4 linked regions of the Homo sapiens genome follow. The protein of the gene in region 1 purifies or fractionates together with the protein of each later gene. This does not show direct contact. Each region holds a gene or a part of one and is shown in the gene's direction. Other genes may lie near its edges.

Region 1 (7,210 bases):
TCTATATTTTGAAATGTTTCATGATACAATCTTAGGAAAAAAATAATTTGAGTCACAGTGGGAATCAGAACTAGAAGGATTCCAAAATGTTATACCCCTTTGTCTACTTTCTTTGCTTCCAACTCTAGCACCTTGTACACAGTAAATGAAGTGACTCTCTGTTGAATGGAGCTGTTAAACTAAATTCCAAGCTGCAAGATCACTTCCAAAGCTGGCAGGATGCTTCCAGAGTATGAGTTGGTGATTTATTTCTGTGAAGGCCAGATAGTAAGTATTTGAGACTTTGTGAGCATACAGTCTCTGTCTCAACTATTCAACTCTGCCGTTGTAGACTGAAAGCAGACATAGACAACACTTGACAGTTTGCCAAGTAGAGGATACCATCAATGCAAAGGCCGTGGGGCAGGAATAGTGGCTGTGTTCCAATAAATTTTATTCACAAAAACTCATGGGGCTCATAGTTCGCCAACTCCATGTAGACCACAAATACTTACCTCCGACTAGAAAAACAGGAGTAAGATTGACAAAATGCCAACAGTCTATGTAAAGGTTTCATGGGTGACAGGACAGGACATGGCTGATAACAAAAGGAAACAACAAACATTTTTGTGTCTACCTCCACCTCCTACTCACCCATTTCCTTTCATTAAAAACAGGGCAGTTTGTTCCGGCACTGAACCTGAGGTTTGATATGCAAGCACCCTTAGGAGAGGTGACATGTTAATCTTCAATTCTAGTAAGTGTGAATAATTCACATCTGATCCCAACTTACAAGCAGATTATTTTAGCACCAGAAGGAATACATGCAGGAGGTAATGGAGTGACGTCCCCAAAGAAGAGATACCCATGAACAAAGTTCAAACTGCAGAGATAAGCTGTTGGAGCCCTTGTGGTCTTACTCTTTAGTGAGGAGAGACAAATAATAAAGGTAATAAATAATTAAATTATGTATTATGCTATAAGGTGATGAGTCCTGTAGAAGAAAGAAAACACAGAGCAGAGTAAGGGAGATTGGAGTGCTGGGTGGAGGGTGAGGCTGTGATATTAAACAGGGTGGTCTGCGTAGGGCTATTAGGAAGATGCCATTAGAAGCAGAACCTGGAAATGAGGACACGAGCCAGTCAGATATCTGGGACAGTTTGCCAAGCAGAGGATACTGCCAATGCAATGGCCCTGGAGCAGATGTTGCTCAGAATATTGGAGGAGTAGAAAAGATGCCAGTTTCAGGAGTGGTAAGATGAAGTAGAATAATCATGTGATGATGTTAGAGACAGTCCTAGGGGACCAGAACAGGGGGGACAAGCGAAGAGTTCAGACTGGAGAAGTGCTAAGATGTGACTTACATTTAAAGAATCACTCTGGCCACTCAGTGGAGAATAGACTGCAGGGGCAAGAGTGGAAGAAGGAGAACAGTCAGGAGACTAGTACAATATTCCCCCTGGGGGTGGTGGCAACTCAGACCAGTAGGTGGCAGTAGAGGTATTGAAAAGTGGCCAAACGGGGGTACATTTGCGGCTAGTGCTAACCTTATTTCATGAAGGATTGAACGTTTGGTGCAAGAGAAGGGTAAAAATTAAGGATGACTCCATATTCTTTAGCCAGAGCAACTGGAGGGGGAGAGTTCCTATTAGCTGAGAAGAGGAAGACTGTAGGAAAAACTAGTTTTGGGGGTGGGGGGGTGGGTGTGAATCAGGAGGTCAGCTTTGGACAAGTTTTGACATATATATCAGATATCCCAAGTACAGATGGACAAGTTGACAGTCAAACATAAGTTTGGAATTCAGGGAAGAGGTCCTGGCTGTCATAAGCATATAGATGGTGTTTAAAGCCATGAGTCAAGTGAATTTTCTAAAGTGAGAGAAAAATACAGGTCAGCCACAAGCCAGAAGGACTCTGATTATCTCATTTTCTTTCTTCCTCTCTCTCTCTCTCTCTCTCTCTCTCTCTCTCTCTCTCTCCCTCTCTCTCTCTCTCTCTCCTTCCCCCTTTCTCTCTCTCTCTCTCTGACAATGGATTCTACCAGGTTCTTTTTTATTTTAAAAATGTAAGCACAAGTAAACAGGCTTGTTCACATCATGAAGTCAAATTATCCCATGCCATGTCCCTTTAGCTGTGGCCTGCTAAAGGCTTGCATGAACAAGCTTAGGAGAAAATTCCTAAAATTCTAACTGAGTAAAGATGACAATGCAGAGTATAATTTGAGTAAATGAAGTCATATTATCGTAATAGCAGATTGCCAAAAGTTAGGATGTAACTAAACTCATGGAAAATACAGAGCCAAAGAAACAGGAGAAGTAGCAGAGGAAGTGAATGAATAGAATAAAGTAAATAAATCTGTGACATTTTGCCTTAGAGGAAACCACTCCTCCCAGCTGTCCTTGGGTGTTTTATGCCCCCAAGAAGGGATGGAAATCCCAAGAGATTGTGCCCAGGTGTTTCCACAGTTATACCGACTGTATTAGTCCATTTTCATACTGCTATGAAGAAATACTCAAGACTGGGTAATTTATAAAGGAAAAGAGGTTTAATGGACTCACAGTTCCATATGACTGGGGAGGCCTCACAATCATGGTGGAAGGTGAAAGAGGAACAAAGGCATGTCTTACCTGGTGGCAAGCAAGAGTGCGTGTGCAGGGGAACTGCCCTTTATAAAACCATCAGATCTGGTGAGACTTATTCACTGTCATGAGGACAGCACGGTAAAAACATCCACTCCCGTGATTCAATTACCTCCCACTAGGTCCCTCCCACAACATGTGGGGATTATGGGAACTACAATTCAAGATGAGATTTGGGTGAGGACACAGCCAAACCATATCACCAACTCCTCCTTCCCCTACCCTAAGTTTACTTTTTATTCTAGAATCGAACTTTTGCCATATTACCATATATAAGTTGTGAAGTAAATACAAATCGCCATGTGGAAAAGGAAATTAACTAGCAGAGTGTAGAATTAATTTATTTAGCCAGGTTGTTGTGCCACTCTTGCCCTGCTTCACCCTTAATTTTTTGAATGACTACCTACTATATTCCTAAAGAATGGAGAGCTATTTGGAATCCATCAGTGACTTTAATTTGCTATTAGAATGTAAGTTACACTCTTTTGAATTCTTCTGAAGGACTCCTTTCCCTTCCCAAAATTCTAGTTTCCAAACTGAAATATTAAAAAATATTTCTGCAAGTTATTTTTCCCATACTCTACTGTAATTAAACCACTATTTGTGGTTCCCCCCCCCCCCACACAGACACATAAGCCCCTTGAAGATGTGGGCTGCCTCTCTTCTGTTTGCTCTTGTGTCTCCAACCCCTAACGGAATGCTCAGCACATGGCAGGTTCTCAAATAAGACTTGACTGAACGAATTAATAGAAATGATGCTAATTCCATGTACACTCAAAAGAATACCTCTTTGAAAGCCAGTAGCTTCACTCTCTTCTGCCAACCCAAGACTTCTTCACATCATAGATACTTACAAATAAGTTACAGTAAGCAACAATTTATAAGTAAACACAGTGTGTCAATGCATGCCAAAAGGATGATTACTTTTCTTGGCTATCCATAGCAGGACATAAAATATGTCCTTAGATTTATTACAGATGGCCAGCCGGTATGCACCAGAGAAAATAGTGGAATGGGGGAAGCCAAAAGTTGTGAGTCTGTCATAATGATGTCAAGTGACACACTTTTTCATTGCGATCTAGGTGTACCATACCTTAGCAAAAACAATCTATTTTCCATTTCTGGATTTCTTAATAACTTAAACTATATAAATAAGCTCCTTTTCCATCATATGAACTGTTCTTACATATTCTCTGGCCTTCCTTTGTCCAAATGTTGAGTTGAAGTTTTCATTGCATATTCTCTGTGCACTTTGCATTACCTAATGGTTTCCTGGCTCATGTGAGAGAAGTCAGCGTCAGCAGTCGGGTTTTGCCGAGATATTTTCTTGTCCTTTCCAGCATAGAGCTCTACAAACAAAGGCAGGGTTATCACATGTACCCGAGAGCTGCCTGGGAAAAGTGGGAGCTATAGTTATCAAAATTGGAAACTTTATGAAGTATGCTTTTGTCTCCGTTTTTGTTGCGTTCAATCAGATCAACAAGTGTTGGCTAAGTGTTGAGCGTGGTTTCCTGTGGGATTGTGTAAGGCTCTGTAGGACAATAAACGTGTTGGGGGCACTGAGTAATGTAGCCATTTCTGACCCGGCAGCCAGGAAAATGTGAAACAATTTGCTTCTGGAAACAGGACAGCCGGGGCCGTGTTCCTGCAACAGCAGACCAAGCACCGCGGCGGACCCAGGCAAGCACGGAACAAGCTGAGACGGTGCGTTTAAGCGGCAGGTGGCTACTCAGTGTCGCATACTATGCGGAAAATAGGTTTGGTTCCCGGTGTTGTGGGGCCTGAAGTTACAAACTTTGGGAAGCTCACTTTAAGAAAAATAGTACAACATTTTTAATATGAAATTGCCAGGGCTTTCTCTGGGACTTTAGATGGGACCAGGTAATTTGGAGGCCAACGGCTGAAACTGCTATAATTTCACTGTAAATTCACTCCTTGCTCAAAATCTCAGTTAGGGAAGCTCTCAGGTTGTTTATGTATCACCACCAGTTCTACCTAGCTTTGTGTGTATTCTCTGCTAATTTTCTCCATCCGCTTCTTTAGGTATTGCCTTTCCATAGCCTTTCATATTGGCCTCATAACTGCTTCCAAAGAGACATAGAAATGTTCCTTATACCTTCTTTAACTGTGTTTTTATGATGTTACTTTAGCTACAAATATTTGCTCTTAGGTTCCTGAGGTCTCCCTAAATCAAGTGCTTTGTGTATTTTAGATGGAGATAGACAGGTGGGAGGGAGGTGAACCATGCAGTTGTACTCATATCCATATAATTTTGAAAGATTTTGTGGGCCACAATGATTTCATTGGATTTGAAAAGGAGTGCAACTTTGTGGTCCATGTAAGTGCTTCTCAAGCTTTCCTGTGCACGTGGATCACCTGGGGATCTTGCTAAAATGAAGATTTGGCTGCGCGAGGTCTCGGGTGGGAACTGAGAGTCTGCATGTCTAATGATCGCCCGGATGATGCAAGTGCACGGACCACACTTTGAGTCACATCCAAGTATTTATTTGTAGGAAATATGGTGGCACAAATACACAGTCAATAAGGGTATGGTTCAACCTCATTTTATGGTAACTCGTCTCAGGATGGAAAGTCTGCGACAAACCTACTATGTATGGACTGGTGTTTGTTGACATGGCAATACATGAGGAGGTCTTCCTGCCTCCCATTTTCTCCTATACCCAGGAGCTGGGGACAGAGGGATGAGAAGTAAAATTTTATCATTAAGGATCATTATTATTTCACTGTCTTTAGTTTTTTAACTTTTTATGGTCCTTTTTAAAACTTTGCCTATGGAGTGATCAGAAGGGACATAAGCTTTTAGAATATCTACTAGGGTGTTGGGCATTAGGCTGCCATTTTCTCTTGACTACTTGTAACCCTTCGAAGTGGTTATTGTTTCACTGCCTTTACAGATGGGGAAGCTGAGGTTTAGCTGGGTTAAGTAACATGACAGATTCCATAGAGACAGAGCAGGGATTCGAACCCAGCTCGGTGCTTTCACTTGCACTAACCGGCATCATGAAAGCAGTGTTACATGTTTAATTCAGCATGAGATGCTAGCTCATGGATTTATTACTTTTTGCTTTTCTCCTAAGGAAGTTGCCCAGAGAGAGTGCCCTAAGCAGAGGAGAGGGAGCAGAAAGAAAGAGGTTACTGAAAAGAAGAAAAGACTTAGAAAAGCTCTATGGGGCACTGAAGATTAATCTCACACCTAAAGCAAAACTTAGCTCCAAAAAGACTAGCATTAAGATTCTTGCCTTCTTTGTGAGAAAATGATCTTCCCAAAGTGTCTGGTTTTTATACACTTATTTTGGATCAATTAAGGTATGATGCTCCAAGATGCTGAGAATTTGACTGTCAATGTTAAAAGATTTCTGTCCATATCATGCCAAGATCAACTTTAACTTTCCCTCTCCTGCATAACATCATGTGAAATAAGGATCTGTCAGGTTCTGTGAAGCCAGTATTTGTCTTTGGCCAGCATCCTAAGACTTTTTGAACCACTTTACTTGATCCTCAGTCAAACTTTTTGTTCTTGTTTAAACCTACCATCACATTTTGTTCAGTTATTTAGCACGAAGATAAGCGGGCCTGGCATTTGGACAAATATTTGAAGATCAAGTTTGTCACAGGGCCCTCCAGTTTCCCTTCCAGATCCCACCCCACTTGGAGCGTCTTCCCTTTCTTTCCCACCCTTCCTGCTCTACTGCCCTCCCACCACATGTATTATTTTAACATCTTGACACCTACAAAATCTTTAGCTATATGGCATGTAAAGTAAGAGAGGATAACTAAACCAAGTCAAAGGGTAAGGAATTGCTATCCTTATCTCTGAATTTTAAAAGATAAATCTTTAAAGACACCACCCTGAGCCAGTCAGGGAATACACTTCCTGGTTGAGGGAACTATCCAATGGCCACTTAACTAGATAACCCTGTCTCCCTTGGTATCCTGTTTCCTGCTCCCCTTCTGTACCACTGAGAATTTATTCCAACTTTTGAGGTTGTATGTTCTTACCTATTTTCAGAATGTGGTTTCAAATTTTGCTATTTAACACTGCCTTTCAGCAGGAGATTCCTATCGAAAGATTATAGGTAACATCTTTCTGATATTTCCAATAAAATGTCTCTTGCACTGGTCTGTTAAGACTCAGATTTATGGGTAGTTTCACCAAACTATGTCCCTTAGCAAAGCTGTAGTATGTTTGGCTGAACACACAGATATCTCCTACTCTGTTTACTGCCATCATGGAGTGGATGGTGTACAGGTATGACACCTGAAGCTGGCTCCCAGGGCCATGCCTCTTAGGTCACTGGTTAACAGTACTGGCTAAGTCACTTAGGCTGCTGGGGCTCAGTGTTACATCTGTAAAATGACTTCTAGGTTTCTTATAAGATTTGACATCCTATGACTGCCTTCCTGTATTTAGGTTAGAGCAGTCTCTGGTTTAGGAGGGTCACACAGCAGGCATGTCCTTCTCTAGCATTAGTAGCGTGGTCACGAATATGGGATGTGGAGTTAGACTGCCGGGATTCAAATCTAGCTCCACCCACTAGCAGTGTGACCTGGGCAATTTATTTATCTATTGC
Region 2 (7,026 bases), on another chromosome or scaffold:
CCGCCTTGGCTTCCTGAGGTGCTGGGATTACAGGCGTGAGCCACCACACCTGGCCACTCCAGATTTCTTTAACCACCACTCTACTCTCTACTTCTTTGAGGTTGTTTTAGATTCCACATATAAGTGAATACATGCAGCATTTGTCTTTGTGTCTGGCTTATTTCCCTTAGCAAAATGTTCTCCAGTTCCATCCATGTTGTCACAAATGACAGAATTTCCTTTTTTTTTTTAAGGGTGAAAAATATTCCATTGTATATATAGTAGTTTTTTTAAACTTACACTGAAGGTCTTGAGACACACAGTTTACTGATTTTCCTGTTTGGGAATATATATGGGTGTGTACATATATGTGGTTGTATGTGATAATGTATACGTGTCTTTATAGTAAATATACTTTATGAGAGCTATATATGTATTAACACATTTCATAAGATGAAATCTGAATTTATTGAAAAGGCAGGCAAGTTGGTAGCTGCAGAACACAATTTAGCCTCCCTTTGACTGTAAATGTGTCTTTATATATACACTGAGTTTGTTTGTTTGTTTGTTTGTTTTTTGAGATGGGGTTGCATTCTGGTCACCCAGGCTGGAGTGCAGTGGCATGATCTCTGCCTCTTGGGCCCAAGCCATTCTCCCACGTCAGCCTCCTGAGTAGATGGGATTACAGGCACGTGCCACCATGCCCAGCTGATTTTCATATTTTTTGTATAGATGGGATTTTGTCATGTTGCCCAGGCTGTTCTTGAACTCCTGGACTCAAACAGTCCGCCCACCTCAACCTCCCAAAATGCTGGGATTACAGGCGTGAGACACTGGGCCCGGCCTGCACCCAGTTCTTGATGTTTGCTAGGCATAGTATTAGCAGTACTTAAATAAAAAGTTGAAGACAGTGGTGTTTGCCTATATTTGTCAGGGTTCAGGTGCAGATAATTAGAAAAGTGCTGTTGCTTTTTCTTTTTTTTTTTGAGACCGAGTGTCGCTCTGTCACCCAGGCTGGAGTGCAGTGGTGTGATCTTGGCTCACTGCAACCTCCGCCTCCCGGGTTCAAGCGATTCTCCTGCCTCAGCCTCCTGAGTAGCTGGATTACGGGCACGTGCCACCATGCCTGGCTTTTAAGCTGAGACAGACTTAACACAGGAGTGAGGTTTTTAGTAAGTGGATAGGCTGAAGGAGGAGGCTCCAGGAATGCCCTCCAGAATCACACCTCAGAACTGGCCGTGAAGGAGCTGCTATGCCACCTCTCCTGCTGTCAGGAAGCTTAGGTGTGATCTGGTGAACTAGAGGCTGTCTTTGCCACCGAACCGTTGGCTCCAAAGCCTTGTTCTGTCTGTGTCTACACAATGGCTACCTTTTGCTATGTGGTCTTTCTTTCTACTTCACTCTGTCTCAAGTTCATGTTTCTCTCTAGTAGACCTGATTAGCAGACCCCTAATCATATCTGAAACCCTAGCTGCTAAGGGGTCTGGGAAAGGTAGTTCTTTCTTTTCAGTTCCTGCAATACATGAAGCACAACAGAAAGATATTGGAACGGATGGTTGAATAACCCCTGTACTATATCTGTCACACTCACCCCAAAAAGGAAAGACAAGTATTTTAAGTCACCTCCAACGTGCTTTTGAGTACATAGGGTCTAGAAAGTTTGATTGGAGTGTACCAGAGGGGAAGGGGATGGTGTGAAGGCTCCCTCTGGAAGGCGCGGCGGTGGGTGGCTGGAGCCGAAGGATTAGAATAAACCTCCCAAATGTGCTCGGACCTCATTCACTGAGTATTTTTCCAGAAACAGGGAAACAGCCTTGCAGCTGAGGACTGGTGTGAAGGTGCTGATGACTGGGGAAGTGATACTGAGGAGGGGCCTTCACCACAGTTTACCTTGGATTTTGGGAATGATGCCAGCAGTGCCAAAGACGTAGACTGGACTGCTCGGCTCCAAGACCTCCGCCTGCAGGATGCTGTCCTGGGTGCTGCCCATCCTGTGCCTCCTGGGCTGCCGCTCTTCCTGCCCTACTACATCTGTGTTGCAGATGAGGATGATTACAGGGACTTTGTCAACCTGGATCATGCCCACAGCCTTCTGAGGGACTATCAGCAGAGAGAAGGCATTGCCATGGATCAGTTGCTTTCCCAAAGGTGAGGATGTGTGCTGCTGAGGTTGAGAGGTGACTGGATTGGGAAGCAGCCACAAGAGTTACCCTTCAGTTTCACCACAGGACCTGGGGAAACTTTCAGGCAGAACTTGTATGTAGGACCTTTTTGCTTCACTTCCTTATCAGCCAACTTGAGTTAGCTTGAAAACCCTGCTCTATTTATAATTGCCGTTAAGAAAGTGAAGATGAACAAACAGAAGTTAGAGATGGCAAGTATTTATAGAAGACGCGTTCACTGACTCTTAAATTTTCTTTTATATTTCTAATATGTCTTTATAGCAGAGACAGGCAAGTTAGAAAACTACCATTTGATCTGGGATAATAAGATTGGGGTGAAAAAATGGAAAAAGGAAAAGAAAAACGCCATTTGTTTATTGACTCTTGGCTGTGGCTCCAGAACTGGCCCAGGACCTCAGAGATGCTTTCAGATCCTCAATTCTGTAAAATGAGAGTGATGGTGATATCTCTGTTCTCTGTTTCATCCCATGATTTTTTGAGAGTTAAGCGAGAGGGTAGATCTTGAAAGGCTTTATAAACCAAAGCTCTCTAAAGAGGTAAGAATGATCATTTTTGCTTATTGATTGACTGAGAGAGACAGGGTCTCACTCTGTCACCCACGCTGGAGTGAATTGGTGTGATCAAAGCTCATGCAGCCTTGAACTCCTGGGCTCAGGCAATCTATCTTAGTTTCCCAAGTAGCTGGGAGTACAGGTGCACACCACCATGTCTGACCAATTAAAATTTTTTGAGTTTCGCTGTTGTTACCCAGGCTGGAGTGCAATGGCACGATCTCGGCTCACTGCAACCTCCACCTCTCAGGTTTAAGCAGTTCTCCTACCTCAGCCTCCCAAGTAGCTGGGATTATAGCCATGTGCCACCATGCCCAGCTAATTTTTGTATTTTTAGTAGAGATGGGGTTTCACTATGTTGGTCAGGCTGGTCTCGAACTCCTGACCTCAGGTGATCCACCCACCTCAGCCTCCCAAAGTGCTGGGATTACAGGCGTGAGCCATTGTGCCTGGCCTAAAAATTTGTTTTAGCCACTGCACCCAGCATTTTTTACTATTAGAATAAAAAAATTACAATAGAATATTTGGAGAAATGGCCTGGTTCTTTACCAGAACTGTTTCATTTGTAGGCTTTTTCAGAATAATGATGAAGGGGAATGCATGAAGACATGTTGGTGTTTGAAAATAATCCTTAATAGAATTGATGGTTATAAGGACTTTTTATTTTTTATTTATTTATTTATTTATTTATTTATTTATTTTTGTGTGTGTGTGATATGGGCTCTCTTGCCAGGCTGGAGTGCAGTGGTGCGATCTCGGCTCACTGCAACCTCCCCTTCCTGGGTTCAAGCAATTTTCTTGCCTCAGCCTCCCAAGTAGCTGGGACTACAGGTGCGCGCCACCACACCCAGCTAATTTTTGTATTATTAGTAGAGACGGGGTTTCACCATGTTGACCAGGATAGTCTCAATCTCTTGACCTCGTGATCCACCTGCCTTGGCCTCCCAAAGTGCCGGGATTACAGGTGTGAGCCACCGCGCCCGGCAGGATTTTTTATTTTTTAATTTCTTAAGTTTTTATGTATTTGCTTATTTTTGGTGGGTTTCTTCAGACTAGAGTATTCTTCTTTTTTTTTTTTTTTTTTTTAGAGATGGGATCTTGCTTTGTTTCCCAGGCTGAACTGCAGTGGTGTGGTGTGGTTATGGCCTTTTTTTTTTTTTTTTGAGACAGTCTTGCTCTGTTGCCCAGGTTGGAGTGCAGTGGCACGTTCTCGGCTCACTGCAACCTCTCCCTCGCCGGCTTAAGCAGCTCTCATGTCTCAGCCTCCCGAGTAGCTGGGACCATAGGCGTGCGCCACTTCACCCAGCTAATTTTTGTATTTTCTTTTTAGTAGAGATGGGCTTTTGCCATACTGGCCGGGCTCTTCTTGGAGTTCTGGCCCCACGTGATCCGCCCACCTCGACCTCCCAAAGTGCCGGGATTACAGGTATTAGCCACCACGCCCAGCCTGCTCATGGTTTACTGCAGCCTCAAACTCCTGGCCTCAGGGGATCCTCTGGCCTCAGCTTTCCCCATAGCTGGGACTACAGGTGTGTGCCACCAAACTCAGCTAATTAAAAAAATTTTTGGTTTTTTTGAGACAGAGTCTCACTTTGTCACCCAGGCTGGAGTACAGCGGTGTGATAATGGCTCACTGCAACCTCCAGCTCCCAGTTTCAAATGATCCTCCTGCCTCAGCCTCCCAAGTAGCTGGGATTACAGGTACCCGCCACCACACCCGGTTAATTTTTGTATTTTTAGTAGAGATGGGGCTTCACCATGTTGGCCAGGCTGGTCTCAAACTCCTAACCTCAAGTGACCCACTCTCCTTGGCCTCCCAAAGTGCTGGGATTGCAGGCGTGAGCCACCGCACCCAGATGAAAAATACATATATATATATATATATATAAAATAAATAATAAAATATATATATTAAAAAATATATATGAAAATATATATATTTGAGACAGAATCTCGCTCTGTTGCCAGGCTGGAGTACAGTGGCTCAATCTCAGCTCATTGCAACCTCCACCTCCCAGGTTTAAGCAATTCTCCTCCCTTAGCCTCCTGAATAGCTAGGATTACAAGTGCATACCACCATGCCCAGCTAATTTTTGTATTTTTAGTAGAGACAGGGTTTCACCATGTTGGCCAGGATGGTCTCGATCTTTTGACCTCGTGATCCACCTGCCTCGGCCTTCCAAAGTGTTGAGATTACAGGTGTGAGCCACTGTGCCCTGCGACTTTTTAAATTGTAAATAATTACTCAAGAGTTGAAAATGGCTTGGGAGAAGGGTTGGGCAGGGAACTGCAGAGCTACATGTACACAATTTAAATATCAAAAATATTTACTTGACAGTTTTTGGCTGAGTGCGGTGGCTCACTCCTATAATTCCAGCACTTTGGGAGGCCGAGATGGATCACTTGAGGTCAGGAGTTGGAGACCAGCCTGGCCGACGTGGTGAAACCTTGTCTTTACTAAAAATACAAAAATTAGCTGGACGTGTTGGCGCACACTTGCAATCCCAGCTACTCAGGAGGCTGAGGCAGGAGAATTGCTTGAACCCAGGAGGTGGAGGTTGCAGTGAGCCAAGATTGCACCATTGCACTCCAGCCTGGGTGACAGAGGGAGACTCCCTCTCAAAAAAAAAAAAAAATTACTTGACAGTTTTACAGTTTTTTAACTTTGACAGTTTTTTTTTTTTTTTCTTTTTGAGACAGGGTCTCACACTGTTATCCAGGCTGTAGTGCAATGGTGTGCTCACGGCTCACCACAGCCTTGCCTCTGGAATAGCCGGGACCACAGGTGCATGCCACCATGCCCAGCTAATTTTTGTATTTTTTTGTAGAGACAAGGTTCTGCCAGATTGCCCAGGATGGTTTTGAACTCCTGAGCTCAAGTGATCCGCCTGCCTCGGCCTCCCAAAGTGCTGGGATTACAGGCGTGAGCCCACTGCACTGGCCTGAGAAATTTTTTTTTGAGACGGAGTTTCACTCTTCTTGCCCAGGCTGGAGTGCAATAGCGCAATCTTGGCTCACTGCAACCTCCATCTCCTGGGTTCAAGTGATTCTCCTGCCTCAGCCTCCCAAGGAGCTGGGATTACAGGCGCCCGCCACCACGCCTGGCTAATTTTTTGTACTTTTATTAGAGATGGGGTTTCAAGATGTTGGCCAGGCTGGTTTCAAGCTCCTGACCTCAGGTGATCTGCTCACCTCGGCCTCCCAAAGTGCTGGGATTAAAGGCGTGATTGATTTTTTTTTTTTTTTTTTTTTTGAGATGGAGTCTCATTCTGTCACCAGGCTGGAGTGTAGTGGCATGGCACGATCTCGGCTCACTGCAACTTCCGCTTCCCGGGTTCAAGCGATTTCCTCTGCCTCAGCCTGCTGAGTAGCTGGGACTATAGGCGCAAGCCACCATGCCCAGCCAATTTTTTGCATTTTTTAGTAGAGATGGGGTTTCACCATGTTGGCCAGGATGGTCTCGATCTCCTGACCTTGTGATCTGCCTGCCTCGGCCTCCCAAAGTGCTGAGATTACAGGCGTGAGCCACTGCGCCTGCCCTGATAAAATTTTTTAAAAGAAAATTATCTTGTTTTGTCTTGCAAATGCTGTAATTTTCTGGATATAGACATTCAAAAGTGTTTTCTGCTTCTGTTTTTAGCCTTCCTAATGATGGTGATGAAAAATATGAGAAGACCATAATTAAAAGTGGAGATCAGACGTTTTACAAATTCATGAAGCGAATTGCTGCTTGTCAGGAGCAGATTTTGAGGTAAAAAAAGGCACAGTTCCTTTTATTGTTTTCCTTGATTATAAAGGAATACATATTAGTTTGGAAAACACAGGAAAATATGAGAAAAGCAAAACCTACAGTATTCCCCAAACCAAGAGAGAACCTAATACCTGCTTTATAGGACCTAATACCTACTTTATAGGATGTGTAGGAGGATTCAGTAAGGTAAAGTGCACTCACTTGTCTAACAAATACTTACGAAGTCTATTCTGCATGCCAGTTGCTGGTATTTGTAGGTGCTGCAGATATAGCAAGAAACGGCACAGATGAAGTCCATGTTCTCATAGCCTTTATTATTATTATTATTTAATTTTTTTTTTTCTTTGAGAGGGAGTCGCGCTCTGTCGCCCAGGCTGGAGTGTAGTGGCGTGATCTTGGCTCAATGCAACCTCCACCTCTTGGGTTTAAGCCATTCTCCTGCCTCAGCCTCCCAAGTAGCTGGGATTACAGGTGCCCGCCACCCTGCCCAGCTGATTTTTTTGTATTTTAGTAGAGATGGGGTTTCACCATGTTGGCCAGACTGGTCTCGAACTGCTGGCCT
Region 3 (7,026 bases), on another chromosome or scaffold:
ACCCCCATGCCCGGCTAATTTTGTGTTTTCAGTAGAGATGGGGTTTCTCCGTGTTGGTCAGGCTAGTCTTGAACTCCCGACCTCAGGTGATCCGCCTGCCTCGGCCTCCCAGAGTGCTGGGATTACAGGCGTGAGACACCACATCCGGCCAAGAATACTATTTTTAAACATTGCTTTACTGTGTTTCACATATTGGAGGATCACCTTGTGTTTTTCCCCATAGGTTGATTTGTTTCTAAGAGAGAAATTCTCTGTTCCATGGCCTAGATCTTACCCAGTACCCACTTTTGATTTCAGAGACTTGTTATGATTGTAAGGGGACTAGAAAAAAGGGTGGATGGCTGAATACAAGCTAGTCTCACTTCACTAGAAATGTCCACATCCTAATAGTGAACCTGATTTTTATAAGCATTTAAGTGCTCTTTCATGTTCCCTTTCTACCACATTCAGAAATTGCTACTTTTCCTTTAAAAACATTTAATTTTTGTTATATAGATTTTCAAGATGTGGAATAAAGAACTTTATGTGAGAGAACAGCAGGATGCATATGAATTCTTTACTAGTCTCATTGATCAGATGGATGAATACCTCAAGGTAGTAAAAGTTGTACTTTCCCTCTAACTCCCTCAAACTCTAATTATAGTATGAGAATAGTGTCTTAGCATTTGGGGTTACTATGAAACTGACGAATCAGAAATTGATTATCTTTAACATAAGAACTATAATGTATTCTGTGTTTAAACATCAAAACATAACACAGATCAATAGAATTGTATATTTTCTCTTTTTTTTCTTTTCTTTTTTTTTGAGACAGAGTCTCGCTCTGTCACCCAGAGTGGAGTGCAGTGGCACAATCTCAGCTCACTGCAACCTCTACCTTCCAGGTACAAGAGATTCTTGCACCTCAGCCTCCCGAGTAGCTGGGATCACAGGTGTGCACCACCACGCCCGGCTAATTTTTGTACTTTTTGGCAGAGATTGGGTTTCGCCATGTTGGCCAGGCTGGTCTCAAACTCCTGGCCTCCAGAGATTCACCCACCTCAGCCTCCCAAAGTGCTGGGATTACAGGCTTGAGGTACCATGCCTGGCCTAGAATTGCATATTTTCTTAATTCATCTAACGCTCAGTAAAGTATGTAACTCTTAATCTCTACTACATAGTAATAACCATTCCTACCTACATATTCTTTCTGTGTGTCTACTGAAATAATCTGGCCTCAGAAGAGTGCTGCAGTCACTGGTGAGCTGATGGCCCTGTGCAGAGCAGAGAGTGCTCTGGCACAGGGGAGAAAGGAGCCAGATTAAAAAGTTATTCGTGGTGCTGTTGAAACCCAAAGCTCTCTACCTCTACCCTGTAAGCCATGTGGCAGACTTCCTAAACGGTATTGCCTTCTCAGATCCCGCTGTCACTGCCAGCATTGGCCTCTCATCAGTAGGCACAATTCTTCCATTTTTTAAAGTAACTTGCAAATTGATGGCATTCTATCCACAAGAAAAAAGAAAAGATTGCTGAGAGTTGCCCCTAACTTGGTCCTTGTAGCACAGGGAGAAGGATTCAGAATCACCCTGGAGAACACTCTCTTGTCATTAGCTCTACCTGACCCATCCCTCCTCCTCTTCCTCTTCTGATCGTCTGCATCACTCTGACAGTGGGGCCAATAATGGGTTTAGCCTCCATTCACCACAGCTGATACTACCAGAATGACGCGTTTTGTTTTGGTCCTTAAATTGCAATGTGTTAATAAAATTCTGTATACTCATAAGTTCAGGAGGCATCACTTAAAACTGTAACTTTTCATTCCAACAGAAAATGGGGAGAGACCAAATTTTTAAGAATACATTTCAGGGCATCTACTCTGATCAGAAGATCTGTAAAGACTGTCCTCACAGGTGAGTGAAGATATCACCGACACAGGAAAAATGATCATCCTTTTGAAGTGATTTGTTTAGTATGTTGTAAATTTTGCATTTGTTAAGAGACTTAGAACTCTCTCCCTGTCAACAGATCTATAAGTATTTAGTGACTTAAATTTCTTTGCTTTCTACTTCCAGAAGGAGAAAAAATTTCTTTGTGGGCTTAAGAAAATATTCATTGAAATTCATAATTTTAGGCAATTCTTAATTGTCACAAAGTGGCATTTTAACTTAGTAATGGACTTTTAAAATATTGAGGGACTCCCAGATTAAAAATGTAGTTCTGTGTTCAAGCTTAGGTATTATGATAATTGAAGAGTTTTAAATTCCATTGTTGATTGTGGGTTTTCTGTTATTTCCTAATCAGATATGAGCGTGAAGAAGCTTTCATGGCTCTCAATCTAGGAGTGACTTCTTGTCAGAGTTTGGAAATTTCTTTGGACCAATTTGTTAGAGGAGAAGTTCTAGAAGGAAGTAATGCGTACTACTGTGAAAAGTGTAAAGAAAAGGTATTATGTTTGCCCTTTTTAAAAAACAAGATTAATTTGTTATTCGCATAGTGCGTCTTTGTTTTATGTAAAATCAGTATTAAGCTCCTACTGTTATTTCCATTAGATTGTGTCATTACTTGTTTTCACATGGATCAGAAAGGCCTTTGCATTAATTACTGTGCTGTTTTATTTTCTCCATGGAGATCATTCAGATTTGCTCTTTTTCCTTTTTTTTTTCTTTAGAGAATAACAGTGAAAAGGACCTGTATTAAATCTTTACCTAGCGTCTTGGTAATTCACCTAATGAGATTTGGGTTTGACTGGGAAAGCGGACGCTCCATTAAATATGATGAACAAATAAGGGTAACTTTTTTTCTTCCTGAAATTTTTCACAACCATTCATTTCCTCACTCACTTCTTTTTTTTTCCTTTTTCAATTTTCATATTCTGTCTACCATGTTAAGGCTGTTGTCTCAGCATTATGAAGAGCCCCTTATCTTAGGCAGCTGCTGTTACCGGAATAGGCAGATCTGGAAACAGTGGCCCTCATTTCTAGAAGGCATCCTAGTGATTACTATGAAGGAAAATGCCTTCCTTAGGGCTCAAACCAGAGGCTACTTTAGACGTTCCCAGACTTAACATTTCTGAGATTTTATACTTGAACTGGTGAGGTAGTTGTTCCTAGCTTAAACTAGGAAAACACTTCCTCTTATTTGGATCTCACTTAACTGGGTACTGCTGTATATGTTAGTAATCAACGTTAATATGGTCTTTTTGCTTCTACATAGTTTCCCTGGATGCTAAACATGGAGCCTTACACAGTTTCAGGAATGGCTCGCCAAGATTCTTCTTCTGAAGTTGGGGAAAATGGGCGAAGTGTGGATCAGGGCGGTGGAGGATCCCCACGAAAAAAGGTTGCCCTCACAGAAAACTATGAACTTGTCGGTGTCATCGTACACAGTGGGCAGGCACACGCAGGCCACTACTATTCCTTCATTAAGGACAGGCGGTAAGAGTTTCCTGAGGCAGCACTTACTCACTTTCTGCCCTCCCCTGCTCTCCGTTATCATCCATACTCACCGCTGTGGTGCAGGGACACTTTGGCATTGTTCTTGACTGTGTTTCATTTTGAAGTTTTAAAGCTTCGTGCAACTGGTTTTACCCCTTCAATTTGAAAAGTTGTTTTAGAAATTGAAATAATTGTTGCTACATATTTCTTAGATATTTTCAAATGGTAAACACCTGCTTTATTTGTAGACAATACATTGAGATCAATGCTAAGGATGAGGAGGTTGATTTTTTTAACCTTATAATGTTTGTCTGATCTCTGGGTTCTAGAGGGTGTGGAAAAGGAAAGTGGTATAAATTTAATGACACAGTTATAGAAGAATTTGACCTAAATGACGAGACCCTGGAGTATGAATGCTTTGGAGGAGAATATAGACCAAAAGTTTATGATCAAAGTAAGTATTTACAAATGGATATTTTCCATTAGTTTTTTTATTTATCGTTTTCTATAAAAATTAATAGTATTCTTTATATAAAAACACAACAGATTTTGTTATTTTTATTGTACTACTGTTCTAGCAATAGAACCATGAGCAAGCTCTTTAATAACCAAAGTGAAAATGTTCAAGCTGTTTATAAAAATTTTTTTAAATAATTTCTTACAACAACCTTGAGGGATAGGTAGGGGAGCTGGGAGTAAGTTAAAAGGATGAAATGAGCATCAGAGAGAAAGTAATGAATACTGAAATTGAACCTTAAAAATAGTTTTGGAAGTAGTTATCCATTAAAATTTTCAGATTTCCTTTTCACTTATGTAGAGGTGTGACTAATTAGAGAAGACATTTCTAGCACCTGTGTTTTTAAAACCATATTTATTATGCAGTGTGGCAAAGCAGTCTTTCCCTCTACAATCCCCACTCCCAGGAAAAAAGAGTATGAGGAGAAGTACAGCCCAATCAGAACTTGCTATTTGATAAAAAGCTATTTGGTGGAGACCTTAGCATTTCAGAAACCTGATTTTGAAATCTTCTAGTGGTATTTCTAAATTTTTAGCTGTATTGGATTCACTGTATTAGATTTTGATACCATGCCATTATAGTTAAGCATCTTATGGTGGTAACCTTTAAGAGTTGGATATAGTATTGTCAGAATTTGCCTGGATTTGGCCGATCTTGGCAGAAATGGTTAAGTGAGGCCAGTTATCCCATCTTGTGCCACAGAACATATTTTTAAATGTCACTTGCTATTTGCTTACATTTAGACCTCCCTAGGATACTTACCTTCTTTCTCTTACTCCATTACCATACTGCTCCCTTATTCCTTGTCCCCACCTATATCACTTCCAAGTGAGAGATCCAGCTAGGCCCACAACTGAAGTATCCTGACTTCCATGCTAAGCAGTACTCTAAAGACACTCACATTTTACTTATACTTTGCATTTTACAAACTTAGGGAGTAGTTAACTACTTGCTGGAATAATGGGCCCTTTGTTTTAGATTGTCAAGACAAGAAAAACTTTTATTTACAGATGTGTTTCTTAATGTCTTGTTATAAAGCAAACCCATACACTGATGTGCGCCGAAGATACTGGAATGCCTATATGCTTTTCTACCAAAGGGTGTCTGATCAGAACTCCCCAGTATTACCAAAGAAAAGTCGAGTCAGCGTTGTACGGCAGGAAGCTGAGGATCTCTCTCTGTAAGTGTCTCTTCCATGTAATTTGCTGTGTGATTTCTATGGTGATGATGTGGTCTGTGACAATATACTATTTGAGATTTTAAAGATAATTAGCTAAGCTGGAGAGAAATTCTAAAAAGAATTCCAAAAAGAAAATAAATCCCTTATTGCTTCATGGTTATTTTCTTGGCAAGAAGTTGTTACATATTTAGAAACATGCACGTAAGTTATTTCATTCTAGAATTGAAGTGTTTTGTTTTTTGTTTTTTTGAGACAGTGTGGTCTCACTCTGTCACCCAGGCTGGAGTGCAGTGGCATGATCATAGCTCACTGCAGCCTCGACCTCCCAGGCTGAAGCGATCCTTCCACCTCAGCCTCTTGAATAGCTGGGACCACAGGCGAGGGGCACCAGGCCCAGATATTTGGTTTGTCTGTTTTTTGTAAAGATAAGGTCTCCCAATGTTGCCCAGGCTGGTCTGGAACTCCTGGGCTCAAGCAATACTCCCATCTAGGCCTCCCAAAGTGCTGGGATTATAGGCATAAGTCACCATACCTGGACTTTTTTTTTTTTTTTTTTTTAATGTTAGCAGCATTTGTTGAATACACTTTTTGTCCAAAGCATAATGCTATGCCAACACTGTCAGAATGTTGTTGTTTTTTAAAGGTCCTATTGTCAGTGAATTTGCCTTTTAATATATTGGGTCAGGAAAGTGTTTACTTTTTCATGTGAGAAATATGACTATATGTGTTTTATTAAATTTGAAAACTTGGTTCAATACTTTGTTCTTACACGACTTTGAGTGTGTGGCTCTAAGATAAGTTTATTTCACTGCTTTTTTAATGGCTGGGAAAGATATCTCACAATAATATGAAGGAAGAATTCATTTTGTGCTTAAATGTTAAATCTCATATGCCACTTAAGTAAAAATTTGTGTTAAATTTGCCCTGCACTATTTTATCTTCTATAATGTCAATCAGTTCTCCCAACTAATTAGAAAGTATTGCATTTTTAATTTCTTAATTGTTACATTATGATTGTATATATTTATGTGGTACAGTTTTATGTTTCGATACATGTATAATAATCAAATAGTCTAATACCCGTTTATGTGAATTTGGCAAGTCTTAGTAACTACTGAAAAAATAGCCACTTTATACTAGACAGAGTTTTCTGATTCTATCTCTTAGGTCAGCTCCATCTTCACCAGAAATTTCACCTCAGTCATCCCCTCGGCCCCATAGGCCGAACAATGACCGGCTGTCTATTCTTACCAAGCTGGTTAAAAAAGGCGAGAAGAAAGGACTGTTTGTGGAGAAAATGCCTGCTCGAATATACCAGGTAAGAACCATATAAAAAATTCTAAGGGGGAATATCCACGTGGACATCAAAATGTATCTAGTAGGTCCAGAAGTACTTCTGCTGGATTAGTTGTACCACTGGGGCTACATCGTCTTACACACTTGTCTCATGAACCTTTTATGCCACGACACAGAGGGGGCCATAGAGCTAGAGCCATGGAGTGCTAAGAACACAAGTATGAATACACACTCATGATTGGCAGGCACAATCACTGACCTGCTCTGTGAGTGTGAAATGTCACAAATAAACAGAGTTGTGGGGAGTGGGCAGTAAAGAAATCGTGTTGCTGAAATAAACTTATTTTGTCTGGAGAGAAAAACAAGTTAAGGTTCATAACCTTTGAGTGGGACTAATAAAACAATCATTGGCCATTATTTATTGAACACCTACTGTGTGCTACGTGCTTTAAGCACATCTTTAATTTGTAAAAGATTATTATGCAGTATCAGGTTTTATTCTCATTTTTTGGATGGAAAAACAGGTTCAGAAAAGAAGAAGTATGTGCCAGTGTCACAGGACAAGGATCTAAATTCAGAACTGTCTACTCAGTCCAGACTTTATACACTAATTAATCAAA
Region 4 (7,026 bases), on another chromosome or scaffold:
TGGCTCACTGCAGCCTCAACCTCCTGTGCTCAAGAAATCCTCCCACCTCAGCCTCCCAAGTAGCTGGGACTACAGGCATGCACCACCACGACATTTATGAGTAATGTGACATAAATGAGCCACGACAGCATGAGTAAAGTGAGATCTGAAATATTAGCATTATTCTGTGTTAGATTACCACAGTGGAGGTGATTTTGTAGTAAAAGTTAAATTTTAAGTCAGTTACAATTTGCTTGGTCAACATCTACATAACATTTAGGATTGAAATTGTGGTAGTTGAGAATCTGAAGGACAGAAATACTGGAGTAAAGAAGCAGGCTTTCAGCTGGGTGAGGTGGAGGTTACAGTGAGCTGAGATGGCAACACTGCACTCCAACCTGGGTGACAGAGGGAGGCCCTGTCTCAAACAAACAAAAAAAAGAAGTGGTCTTTCAAACTGAGAGAGAGAATTGAGATTAAATTATTGCTACCTGTTTACTTAGATTACTTTCTTTTTTTTTTTTTTGAGACGAATTTTCTTGTCACCCAGGCTCAAGTGCAGTGGCGCGATCTCACCTCACTGCAACCTCTGCCTCCCTGGTTGGAGTGATTCTCCTGCCTCAGCCTTCCGAGTAGCTGGGATTACAGGTGCTCGAACTCCTGACCTCAGGTGATCCACCTGCCTTGGCCTCCCAAAGTGCTGGGATTACAGGCGTGAGCCACAACACCCAGCTGAATACTTTCTTTTTTTAGAAGGTCATGTAACTCTTGTCAATATAATTATGTCATGGATTTTTTTTGTTGGCACTTTAAAAGAAGATAATTAATTTAATAGTTACTCTGTCCCTTGTTACTTGTCCTTTAAAATACCTTTGCTTTAAAAAAAAAATAAACTTGCAAAAGCAGTATACCAGCTTTAAAAATATAAATATAATTCTTTTCATTTTAGATGGAAATCATATTATGTAGAATACTTGGGTGACATCTGCCTGAGAGATCTCCAAGAATTACAGGTATCTTTAATTTAAAGATTAACTTTTTCTCCTAAAGAAAAAACACCATCGTTAAGTTTAGTTGTGATTATGTGGCTCTACCATACAGAAGAGTTTGTTAAAAGTCAAACTGCTGGCCAGGCACAGTGGCTTGCATCTGTAATCCCAGCACTTTGGGAGGCTGAGGTGGGCGGATCACGAGGTCAGGAGATCGAGACCATCCCGGCTAAAACGGTGAAACCCCGTCTCTACTGAAAATACAAAAAATTAGCCGGGCGTAGTGGCGGGCGCCTGTAGTCCCAGCTACTTGGGAGGCTGAGGCAGGAGAATGGCGTGAACCCGGGAGGCAGAGCTTGCAGTGAGCCGAGATCCCGCCACTGCACTCCAGCCTGGGCGACAGAGCGAGACTCCGTCTCAAAAAAAAAAAAGAAACCTTATCTCTATTAAAAATACAAAAAAAATTAGCTGGGCATTGTGGCATGTGCTTGTAATCCCAGCTACTGAGAGACTGAGGCAGGAGAATTGCTTGAACCCGGAAGGCAGAGGTTGCAGTGAGCTGAGATCGTGCCACTGCATTCCAGCCAGGGTGACAGAGTGAGACTCTGTCTCAAAAAAAAAAAAAGGTCAGACTGCAAACATTATTTTTATTGCCCCACAATTAATAGGGTTTTTTTTTTAATTTTTAGAAATGGGAGCATTTATAGTTAACATATCAACTTAGATATAGTGAGTGTTTTTTTTTTTTTTTAAGATAGAGTTTCCCTCTTGTTGCCCAGGTTGGAGTGTAATGATGCAATCTTGTCTCACTGCAGTCTTTGCCTCCGGGGTTCAATCCATTCTCCTGCTTCAACCTCCTGAGTAGCTGGGATTACAGGCATGTGCCACCACGCCCAGCTAATTTTGTGTTTTTAGTAGAGACGGGGTTTCTCCATGTTGGTCAGGCTGGCCTTGAACCCCCGACCTTAGGTGATCCACCCGCCTCGGCCTCCCAAAGTGCTGGGATTACAGGTGTGAGCCACCGCGCCTCGCCAATATTTTTATTATATAAAAATGTGACTGTAGGCTGGGCACAGTGGCTCTTGCCTATAATCCCAGCGTTTTGTAAGGCCAACGCAGGAGGATCGCTTGAGGCCAGGAGTTTGAAACCAGCCTGAGCAACATAGTAAAACCCTGTTTATACAAAAAATAAAATTAGGTATGGGGGTGGCATATGCCTGTAGTCCCAGTTACTCAGGAGGCTGAGGCAGGAGGATCTGTTGAGCTCAGGAGTTGGAAGCTGCAGTGGGCCATGATCATGTTTTTATATCTCAGACTGGGTGACAGAGTGATACTATGTCTCAGTACTCCATAGTCTTTTAGACTGGTTACAAATTCTTTTTCCTTTTGGTAGACGTGAGTGTCACTATGTTACCCAGGCTGGTTTGGAACTCCTGGTTTTGAATGATCCTCCAGCCTCAGCCTCCCAAAGTGTGGGGATTATGATACAGGCGTGAGCCACTGATACAGATGTGAGCCACTGTACGTGGGCCTTTTTTTTTTAAGTAGAAGATTATTTACCTGAATTATTATTATTATTATTATTATTTTTGGAGACAGAATCTCTCTGTTGCCTAGGCTGGAGTGCAGTGGCACGATCTCACTGCAGCCTTGACCTTCCAGGCCCAAGCAGTTCTTCGATGTAGCCAGGACTACAGACGCATGACCGCTATGCCTGTCTTATTTTATTTATTTGTTTATTTTTTGTGTGTGTGACAGTGTCTCACTCTTGCCCAGGTTGGAGTGCAGTGGCATGATCTTGGCTCACTGCAACCTCCTCCCTGGTTCAAGTGATTCTCCTGCCTCAGCCTCCCAAGTAGCTGGGATTGCAAGTGTGCACCACCCTGCCAAGCTAATTTATTTTTTATTTTTTATTTTTTTATTTTTTCAGATTGAGTCTCGCTCTGTTGCCCAGGCTGGAGTGCAGTGGTGCAATCTCTGCTCACTGCAACCTCCGTCTCCCGAGTTCAAGCAGTTCTCCTGCCTCAGCCTCCTGAGTAGCTGGGATTACAGGTGCATGCCATCATGCCTAGCTAATTTTTGTATTGTTAGTAGAGATGGGGTTTCACGTGTTAGCCAGGATGGTCTGGATCTCCTGACCTCGTGATCTGCCTGCCTCGGCCTCCCAAAGTGCTGGGATTACAGGTGTGAGCCACTGCGCCCAGCCTAATTTTTGTATTTTTAGTAGAGATGGGATTTTGCCATGTTGGCTAGGCTGGCCTCAATCTCCTGGCCTCAGGTGATCTGGCCACCTTGGTCTCCCAAAGTGCCGGGATTTTTTTTCTTTTTTTCTTTTTTTTTTTTTGAGACGGAGTCTCGCTCTGTCGCCCAGCCTGGAGTGCAGTGGCGCGATCTCGGCTCACTGCAAGCTCCGCCTCCCGGGTTCACACCATTCTCCTGCCTCAGCCTCCCCAGTAGTTGGGACTGCAGGCGCCTGCCACTATGCCCGGCTAATTTTTTGTATTTTTAGTAGAGACGGGGTTTCACCATGTTAGCCAGGATGGTCTCGATCTCCCGACCTCGTGATCCACCTGCCTCGGCCTCCCAAAGTGCTGGGATTACAGGCATGAGCCACCGCGCCCAGCTGATTTCTTTTTTTTTTTTTTTAAATGTGTTGTAGAGACATGGTCTCACTAGGTTGTTCAGGTGGATCTTGACCTCCTGGCCTCAAGGGATCCTCTCATCTCAGCCTTCCAAAGTTCTGGGATTATAGTTGTGAGCCACACCCTCAGTCTTTGTTTTAGATTATGGTTGGTTGTTTTTTTTCAGACAGATTACCTACTTCAAGTAGACTTTATATTTGCTTTTGTATTTAATCAAGATTTGTTTATATAAATTGTTTATGTACTGTTAAATCCAAATGCTCTTACACTTTAAGGTTCTATTAGTTTTAGATTTTTTTTTTTTTTTTGAGATGGAGTCTCACTCTGTTGCCAGGCTGCAGTACAGTGGCGGGATCTCGGCTCACTGCAACCTCCGACTCCCTCGTTCAAGTGATTCTCCTGCCTCAGCCACCTGAGTAGCTGGGGATTACACGCACGCACCACCACGTATAGCTAATTTTTGTATTTTTAGTAGAGATGGGGTTTCACCACGTTGGCCAGGATGCTCTTGATCTCCTGACCTCGTGATCCACCCGCCTTGGCTTCCCAAAGTGCTGGGATTACAGGCGTGAGCCACCGCACCTGGCCTAGTTTTAGATTTAAATCGCTAGTTGATATTGTTCCTTTCAGCTCATCAGTTGAAATGGTAGTTGTGTAGAAAAGTTAATGGGTGTTTGCCACAATCTTCTGTGAGTTGAAGTTAGGGTTTGTGACTGTTTCACTTTCTCAACTAGTATTCTCTTTTCGTTTATATGTAATTAAGTAACATTTCGCTGTTTGCGGGCTTTTCTTTTTTGAGATGGAGTTTCCCTCGTGTGTGTGTGTGTGTGTGTGTGTATGTGTGTACGTGTGTGTGTGACGGAGTTTCGCTTTTATTGCCCAGGCTGGAGTGCAGTGGCGCAATCTCAGCTCACTATAACCTCCGCCTCCTGGGTTCAAGCGTTTCTCCTGTCTTAGCCTCCCAAGTAGCTGGGATTACAGGTGCCTGTCACCACGCCTGCTTAATTTTTTTGTATTTTTAGTAGAGACAGGGTTTCACCATATTAGCCAGGCTGGTCTCGAACTCCTGACCTCAGGTGACCCACCCATCTCAGCCTCTCAAAATTCTGGGATTACAGGCGTGAGCCACCGCACCCGGCCAATGGAGTTTCACTCTTGTCATCCAGGCTAGAGTGCAGTGGCGCAATCTTGGCTCACTGTAAACTCTGCCTCCCGGGTTAAAGTGATTCTCCTGCCTCAGCGTCCCGAGTAGCTGGGATTACAGGTGCATATCACCACACCTGGCTAATTTTGTATTTTTAGTAGAGATGGGGTTTCGCCATGTTGGCCAGTCTGGTCTTGAACTCCTGACCTCAAGTGATCCACCCACCTTAGCCTCCCACAGTGCTGGGATTACAGGCATGAGTCACCACACCCGGCCAGTAGAACTCTTTAAACCTGAAAAATCAGTCAACTTTGCAGACTAGAGGAGGATGTTGAACACCTATGTGTGTTTTTTTTTTCTTTACCAACTATGCACCTATTTTTCAGACACCTAAAAGTAATGTCTGTGAAACAGTGGTTTTCTTTTTCTACATATTACAGCAGGAAGTGTTCCTATTTATGTACTGTCTGTATCAATACTAACGGGGCATGATAAGCAAAATTTTAAACTTTGGTAGTTAAACCTTTATGTTGCCTCCCCTCTGGGCTGCCAGCTGTGGGGATGTGCTTCTCCCTTAAGGACTTTGGCAAGAATAACAAGTTCATTGGAATTTGACTTTCTGACATAGAGCAGACAGCCTTGCCCTGTCATGCCAGGCCTTTCATGTGAAGTTACCATTTATTAGCTGCTTCTGTCTCTCCAGGGAAGGATTTCCCTTTTATAAGCCTGGGCCAGGGGGATGATAGTAAGATTCCCCATGTGATACCAGAGTTGGAATAGGCTGTAGTGAGATTAGGGCCAGGACTGTCCCATTTTGATTCTTGAATGGTTTCTGTTACAACTTGTCATGGGGAAAAAGTAACACTTATTTTTTTTTTCCTCCCTTAGAAGACAAAAATACTAATGCATTTGAGAAAGCGGTAGTTTTGGGGGGAGGGGGAAAAAGCAACTGCTTTCCTGATCTGCAACTTGGCTGGATGCTAAGATGTCAGTGGACATGAATAGCCAGGGGTCTGACAGCAATGAAGAGGACTATGACCCAAATTGTGAGGAAGAGGAAGAAGAAGAAGAAGACGACCCTGGGGACATAGAGGACTATTACGTGGGAGTAGCCAGCGATGTGGAGCAGCAGGGGGCTGATGCCTTTGATCCCGAGGAGTACCAGTTCACTTGCTTGACCTACAAGGAATCTGAGGGTGCCCTCAATGAGCACATGACCAGCTTAGCTTCTGTCCTAAAGGTGAGCAGTGTTGTAAACTCCAGTGTAATCCCCCCCAGTTAAATCTAAGGATGAGCTGTTGTTAATTAATGTCTCCTCCAGACTAATTGAATGGCCTTGTAGCTTGAAACCAAATTTAAGTGTATGTCAACATCATTTGGACATTTTGTTACATTTACTTTGTTTTCTAATATATGCATGTCTAAGGTCCTCAGATTCCCAAATTAGTAAGAATTAGAAAGTAGGGGTGGGACAGATTCAAGAAAGATGTACCATACCAGAAATGTGTAGTAGCAGAATTGCACAACTTTGCACGTTTCAGGAAGTGAGTTTTCAGAATTTTATGAGGTTGATACAATAAGCATCAGAATCACCATCTTCTGTACGACTGTGAGTGACTGATAAATGTCTTGAGAGTATACAGATCCCTCTGGTTTGCCCTGAATAGTCATTGCCTTTGGGCTAATGAGCTCATTTGTTTCATGTACTGATTTTAATAATAATTCTTTCTTATGCTTGTATTTCATTGATTTAGGGGGTGTTAGTATGGAAATTGTAAAGAATGAACAAAGTTGATTACCCCATCAGCAAGCATTTTATTTAACACATAAGCTAAAACATACCTTTGGATGTCTTGTACCTTAGGCCAGTTATTATCCTATTTACATTTTTTATGATCATTTTGACAGTTTCCCAACAAGCATGTTTCCTTCTCTAACACTGGCCATTATGGGAAATTGGAAATATTTCTCTTTAGTGTTTTCACTAATCTTTTTTCATGAATTGTTACTTGGATTTTGTTTCTGATTAAATTGGAGGTCAAAAGGGCACCTTGGCATGATGTCAACCAAATAAATTTTATTGGAACTTAAACAGAAATAACTAAGGTGTGCCTTGTATGATTTCTATAAAATTTGCTTTATCTACTAGTTTAGGGATTTTTTTTTTTTTCCCCAGATGGTTGGCAAAGGCTAATACCTTGAATTTAGATACTCAGGTCTTTATTAGCAACTGGCTGGAAGCTGAAAGCTAAGTTGTTTTTTTTTTTGTGTG

Evidence for each region.
Region 2: the proteins of BMX (region 1) and PDCD2L purify together in Homo sapiens (affinity purification with mass spectrometry; 3 studies listed by BioGRID and IntAct, with this or other methods). This does not show direct contact.
Region 3: the proteins of BMX (region 1) and USP24 purify together in Homo sapiens (affinity purification with mass spectrometry; 3 studies listed by BioGRID and IntAct, with this or other methods). This does not show direct contact.
Region 4: the proteins of BMX (region 1) and ARIH2 purify together in Homo sapiens (affinity purification with mass spectrometry; 2 studies listed by BioGRID and IntAct, with this or other methods). This does not show direct contact.

The regions. Positions count from the first base shown.
Region 1 is NC_000023.11:15,496,619-15,503,828, forward strand, and holds the start of BMX (cytoplasmic tyrosine-protein kinase BMX), read left to right. Parts: upstream 1-4,188; 5' UTR 4,189-4,322; intron 4,323-7,210. UniProt on the Homo sapiens protein: Non-receptor tyrosine kinase that plays central but diverse modulatory roles in various signaling processes involved in the regulation of actin reorganization, cell migration, cell proliferation and survival, cell adhesion, and apoptosis.
Region 2 is NC_000019.10:34,407,384-34,414,409, forward strand, and holds part of PDCD2L (programmed cell death protein 2-like), read left to right. Parts: intron 1-1,777; coding exon 1,778-2,127; intron 2,128-6,353; coding exon 6,354-6,464; intron 6,465-7,026. UniProt on the Homo sapiens protein: Over-expression suppresses AP1, CREB, NFAT, and NF-kB transcriptional activation, and delays cell cycle progression at S phase.
Region 3 is NC_000001.11:55,093,339-55,100,364, reverse strand, and holds part of USP24 (ubiquitin carboxyl-terminal hydrolase 24), read left to right. Parts: intron 1-495; coding exon 496-594; intron 595-1,806; coding exon 1,807-1,889; intron 1,890-2,280; coding exon 2,281-2,422; intron 2,423-2,647; coding exon 2,648-2,767; intron 2,768-3,192; coding exon 3,193-3,413; intron 3,414-3,742; coding exon 3,743-3,867; intron 3,868-4,968; coding exon 4,969-5,110; intron 5,111-6,277; coding exon 6,278-6,428; intron 6,429-7,026. UniProt on the Homo sapiens protein: Ubiquitin-specific protease that regulates cell survival in various contexts through modulating the protein stability of some of its substrates including DDB2, MCL1 or TP53.
Region 4 is NC_000003.12:48,921,820-48,928,845, forward strand, and holds part of ARIH2 (E3 ubiquitin-protein ligase ARIH2), read left to right. Parts: intron 1-529; exon of another isoform or gene 530-649; intron 650-928; 5' UTR 929-992; intron 993-2,898; exon of another isoform or gene 2,899-5,642; 5' UTR 5,643-5,739; coding exon 5,740-5,994; coding exon of another isoform or gene 5,995-6,036; exon of another isoform or gene 6,037-6,852; intron 6,853-7,026.